2 separate regions of the Homo sapiens genome follow, and region 1 is linked to region 2. A link means that fine-mapping ties the variant in region 2 to the plasma level of a protein whose gene starts in the linked region. Region 2 holds a variant in brackets. A gene starts in the other region. All regions are shown on their reverse strands.

The links. A credible set is the group of variants that fine-mapping cannot tell apart. PIP is the posterior inclusion probability: the model's chance that the variant is causal. The UK Biobank Pharma Proteomics Project read protein levels with antibody pairs (Olink). The fine-mapping took linkage between variants from a reference panel, not from the people measured, so its PIPs are less certain.
Region 1: TIE1 starts here. The variant in region 2 is the best candidate, but not a certain one, in a credible set for the plasma level of the TIE1 protein (UK Biobank, PIP 0.63).

The regions. Positions count from the first base shown.
Region 1 is chr1:43,299,677-43,302,586 of GRCh38, reverse strand. TIE1 (tyrosine kinase with immunoglobulin like and EGF like domains 1) reads right to left here and starts at 1,605. Exons shown (of 23, transcript NM_005424.5): 1 at 1,458-1,605. The coding sequence starts at 1,515. RefSeq lists an enhancer at 1,546-1,635 and a silencer at 1,666-1,765.
Region 2 is chr16:205,375-208,284 of GRCh38, reverse strand. It overlaps LUC7L (LUC7 like), which reads left to right. Exons shown (of 10, transcript NM_201412.3): 4 at 97-207; 5 at 2,138-2,281. Among named protein-coding and RNA genes, the nearest start is that of LUC7L, 23 kb to the left of the region's middle. The variant A/T (reference allele first, on the strand shown) is at 1,563.

The DNA.
Region 1 (2,910 bases), not on the chromosome of region 2:
TATGTTCTGGCTGCCTGGAATGAAGACCACCCCTCTTAGTGAAATCTTCCTTGATTCCCTTTTTGTCTCCTACCTGAGGCAGTGTAAGCTGAACTCCTCCTCAGTGCTCCTCTAGAGCTCCTGTGTCTGTCCCTGTTTAGCCCTCTTCCCCTGTCCTGTGTTCTGCACTAGACCATGAACCACTCAAAGGCAGCCTCTGTGTTCTAATCGGCTGACCAGCAGACTGAAGGAATCAGCTGCCACCTACTCAGAAATCCTTACCAAGCACAGTGCACTGTGCCAACTGCTCTGCATCATTTTCTCATTTAAACCCCATAACAACCATAGGAGGCTGGCATCATTTAATCTCATTGTACAGACTAGGTGTTGCCAGCCTCTCAACTAATGGCCCAGCACTTAGCACAACTCCTGGAATATTGTTGGTGCTCAATAAATGTTTGTCCAGTGAACAACTGAGTGAATCCAACACAATTACCCTATGAACACCCCCTGAAAATGGCCCTCCACAGATCCTCAGATCCAACACAGTCAGCGGCTACTCCTCACTCCTCCCCTGATCCCAGGTTGCAGTGATTTCTAGCACTTGCCTGTGTTTTCCTGGCCTTGATCTCACTTTCTAGTGGATCAAAGTGATGGCAGTGATGATAGGGCTTGTTTTCCAAAATTTTTTGTTGTGGTGAAATGCATATAAAATAAATTTTACCATCTTTTTTTCTTTTTAGATGAGTCTTGCTCTGTCGCCCAGGCTGGAGTGCAGTGGCGCGATCTCAGCTCACTGCAACCTCTGCCTCCCAGATTCAAGCGATTCTCTTGCCTCAGCCTCCCAAGTAGCTGGGATTACAGGCTCCTGCCACCACGCCCGGCTAATTTTTGTATTTTTAGTAGAGATGGGGTTTCACCATGTTTGCCAGGCTGGTCTCGATCTCCTGACCCTGTGATCCACCCGCTCGGCCTCCCAAAGTGCCGGGATTACAGGCGTGAGCCACCACACCCGGCAAATTTTGCCATCTTAACCATTTGTAAGCAGCATATAACCCAATGTGATTAAATACATTCCTAGTGTTGTCCCACCATCACCACCATCCATCCTTTTTTTTTTTTTTTGAAAAAGACGAAAGTCTAAACACAATGGAGACGGGGTCTCACTATGTTGACCAGTCTGGTCTTGAACTCCTGGCCTCAATTGATCCTCCCATCTCAGCCATCCAAAGTGCTGGGATTACAGGTATGAACCACCGCACCCGGCCCCATGTTTATAACTCTTTTAATCTTGTAAAACCAAGTAAAAATCTTGTAAAAACGCTGTACCTTTTAAACAAAACTCCCCATTTCTTCCTCCCTGCAGCCCATGGCAACCATCATCCTACTTTCTGTCTCTATGATAAAATAGGGTTTCTTGGGTAGAAATCAGGGCCTCGGGGCCTAGAAATGGGGTGAGGGACTCAGGGGAGACTTACCCACATGAGAAGCCAAGAAGAGGATGGGGAGCAAGAAAGGGGGCACCCGCCAGACCATACTCCAGAGGCCGACCCAGGCCAGCCAGGACGAGCTGGGCCTGGGGTCAGATGCTGTGGGCCTGACTGCTCAGCCTGTGTTGGTCAGTGTGGGTCGGTGCTGGGGAGGAAGAGGAAATGAGGTGGCTTGGGTGGGAGGGGTGGCAGGGTAGGGGGTGGGAGGACTCATTCTGCCTTTGAGCCTCTAGGCCCCCCAATCTGGCCCCCACAAGGCTGGGGATGGGTGTGGCCTGGGAGGAGTCACTTGAGGTGGGGGGAAGGTTATGGTAAGGGCAGACCTGGGGACAGCTGGACTGATTTTTCCCATCCCCTGTCTCTCTCCAGTACTCAGTCTTGCTGGCACAAAGGAGGCAGGAGGCAGGAAAGGGAGGAAGCCAGTGGCTTCCGCCTATTGAGGAGGGGGGTGGGGTGGGGGACATTGTTCTGGGGTCTCCCCTCCCCCCGGCACAAACACACAATACGGCCCACATGAGTCCTCATGTATGTGCCCCAGGACACAGACAGTTACATGGGTTTCCTAGAGAGCAGTTCACATACGAAACACAAAGGACCTCTGTGGGCCTGAGAAGCACATACACTCAAAGGAACACAGGGCCCTGGCAACAAAGAGCCTTCGAGTCTACCTTGTGTACCTCTCTCATTGTACAGATGGGAAAACTGAGGCTTGCTGTGCTCGAGGGCACCCTGAGGCTGTGGCAAGGCTGGGACTTGAACTTCTGACTTAGTCCTTGCTTTCTTGGTGCCAATCGCTCCACAAGGGCTCACATTAAGCAGTCCCGGGGAGCACACAGGGAGTATCGGTTGCATAGATAGTCCTCAGCTTAAGCTGCTAATGAAAGCTTCAGCTTATTGTCTGCCAGGTGTCATTCATTTTGCGGCAAACCCCTGCCTATTCCTGGGCACTGGGGCAGCAGAAGTCTGCCCAGGGAGGTGCACTCACTCTTGACGGCTGACAACAACCTGGGAGCAGTCGCACTGCTTTGGCAAAGTCTCTAAAGCCCCATGGATCTTGCCTCTGCTTCCCTCCCAGACTCACCTCTCCCTGCCCTGGCACCCGTTGCTCCACCTCTTGCCACCACTGGCAGTTCCCAGAACGGAACAAGACCTGTAGGTACAGAACGCCCACGAGGAGGCCCTTCCAGGGAGCAGAGGGAGCAACCGTTGGATGGGCAGCCTTGCTGGTTAAATCGATGACCCCTCTGACCCGGAATGGAATGGTTGGGATGGATGAGACTTGGTGTCAGTTTAGGTGACTTAGGTCTGGTAGTACAAACCCTCCCCCTGGGCCTGGGACATCTTCCCAGAGTGTGTTCTGGGTGAAGGCTTCATTCTCCTCTGAATGCACCGGGCTCACATTCACTTTTCTCAGGAGGCTGGGTCCCTGCAGCTTGGTTGA
Region 2 (2,910 bases):
ACGAACCTAGGAGTGTATTTCCTATCAAGCAAATGGGTTCTAAGACTTTACGCTTTACACATCATTGATTATAGCGCTGTGCTTTTCCCGTGCTAGGCAATGGATCACTTGGAGTCCTTTATTGCTGAATGTGATCGGAGAACTGAGCTCGCCAAGAAGCGGCTGGCAGAAACACAGGAGGAAATCAGTGCGGAAGTTTCTGCAAAGGTATGCTTGGGTGGCTTCGGTGTCTGGTGTGTTCTTAAAAATACTGGCTTGTCAATAGCTTTTTTTTTTGAGATGGAGTCTCCCTCTGTCACCCAGGCTGGAGTGCAGTGGCATGATCTCAGCTCAGTGCAAGCTCCGCCTCCCGGGTTCATGCCATTCTCCTGCCTCAGCCTCCCGAGTAGCTGGGACTGCAGACGCCCGCCACCATGCCCGGCTAATTTTTTGTATTTTTAGTAGAGACGGGGTTTCACCGTGTTAGCCGGTATGGTCTTGATCTCCTGACCTCGTGATCTGCCTGCCTCAGCCTCCCAAAGTGCTGGGATTACAGGCGTGAGCCACCGCGCCCGGCGTTGTCAATAGCTATTAACTGACCCTCAGCACTGATTGTGTGGACAGTACTCTCTGCCTTACTCCAGTTAAGGATAGAGGGCTGTGATCAAGCATTCATGTGTCATGGAATTCTCATCCCTCAGGAGCTGCTACCTCTGTCTTTTTATTCTCTCCATTTTCGTCCTCTGTACATGGTTTATCATTATTTTTTAATTTTAATATATTCTTCGCTGAGTTTGGTGGCTTATGCTTGTAGTCCCAGCACTTTGGGACACCAAGGTGGGGGCAGACTGCTTGAGCCCAGGAGTTTTAGACCTGAGCAACATGAAGAAACCCCATCTCTACAAAAAATACATATATTAGCCAGGCTTGGTGGTGCACATGTGTATCCCAGTTACTCAGGAGGCTGAGGTGGGAGGATCACTTGAGCTTGGGGAGATTGAGGCTTCAATGAGCTGTGATCATGCTACTTTGCTTCAGCCTGGATAACAGAGTGAGACCCTGCCTCAAAAGAAAAAAAAATTATTGTCGGTTTTTTTTTTTTTTTAAGAGACAGAGTCTTGTTCTGTCGCCCAGGCTGGAGGGCAGTGGCGTGATCTCGACTCACTGCAAGCTCCGCCTCCTGGGTTTACGCCATTCTCCTGCCTCAGCCTCCTGAGTAGCTGGGACTACAGGTGCCCACCACCACGCCCAGCTAATTTTTTGTATTTTTAGTAGAGACGGGGTTTCACTGTGTTAGCCAGGATGGTCTCGATCTCTTGACCTCGTGATCTGCCCGCCTCGTTTTCCCAAAGTACTGGGATTACAGGCATGAGCCACTGCACCCAGCCATCTTTTTTTTTTTTTTTTTTTTTTTTAATAAAGATGGAGTCTGTTGCCCAAGCTGGTCTGGAACTCTTGGGCTTAAGCAATCCTCCCGCCTTGTCCTCCCGAAGTGCTGGGATTACAGGTGTGAGCCAGCATGCCCAGCCTCTGCATGTTGTTTTAAACTTTAATATCTCCACATAAAACTGGAAAGAATTGGT[A/T]AGGAAATGGTCAAACTGTGGTACATCCATATCATAGAATGAAAAGGAGGTAGATTTATATGTAATTAGACTGAGTGCCATTTACATCACTCTTCTGTTTTTCTCTTCAGTGGAACTAAGCCTCTCCTTGTTTTTTCTTTTCAGTGTTGTAAAAGCATTTCTTAGGATTTATGCAATTGCTAATTTGACCAACGGTGCTATTTTGTTTCAGAAGGTAAATCCTAGTAATTAGGTATTTTGGTTACAGCTTAAATCTGTACATTTAAACCTAGGCATTTTATTACCATACCCAGAAGAAAAAGTCATAAAGAGAGACAGCCTAGACAATGACCAATCTGTGATGATCCTTGGAAGCATGTCGGAAGTGACAAAGGTGCCACTGGTTTCATTGGAACATAGGACTCGTTTATGGTTACAGTCTCAATGCTGGCAGTAAGGATGCCTTCATTGTTAAGTGTGGATCTTTAGCTCTTCCACTTATTTTCAGACTGGAAATGGAGCAGGAGAAACCCTTGTTGCCTTTGCATTCACTTTCATTTTCAGATGTCTGCTTACCTCATTCTTTCTCCTCACAGGCAGAAAAAGTACATGAGTTAAATGAAGAAATAGGAAAACTCCTTGCTAAAGCCGAACAGCTAGGGGCTGAAGGTAATGTGGATGAATCCCAGAAGATTCTTATGGAAGTGGAAAAAGTTCGTGCGAAGAAAAAAGAAGCTGAGGTTGGTGAGATAAGTGCCTTAGGGCAAGAGAAATCTTAGTAATTTGGCAGCGTTGACCGTTGGAATTAATTGAGCCCATGCTTGCTCCCATTTTTTAAAAAATTTATACATTTTGGGCCCAGCACAGTGGCTCACGCCTGTCATCCCAGCACTTTGGAAGGCCGAGGCGGGCGGATCACGAGGTCAGGAGATAAGACCATCCTGGCTAACACAGCGAATCCCCGTCTCTACTAAAAATACAAAAAAATTAGCCGGGCATGGCGCCAGGCACCTGTAGTCCCAGCTGCTCCGGAGGCTGAGGAAGGAGAATGGCGTGAACCCGGGAGGCGGAGCTTGCAGTGAGCTGAGATTGCGCCACTGCACTCCAGCCTGGGCGACAGAGCGAGACTCTGTCTCAAAAAAATTTATAAACGCTGTTTTTGCAAGCAGTTTTAGCTTCATAGCTAAATTGAGAGGAAAGTACAGAGATTCTCCATGTACCCTCTCCTCAGACAGCCTCCTCCATTCCTAGCATCTGCCCACAGTCAGTGGGTCTACGTTGACTTGTCATTATCACCCAAAGTCTGCAGAAAATGTTAGGTATGTCATGAATACATAAAATATATGAGGATACTAGTCTTTTATTTACT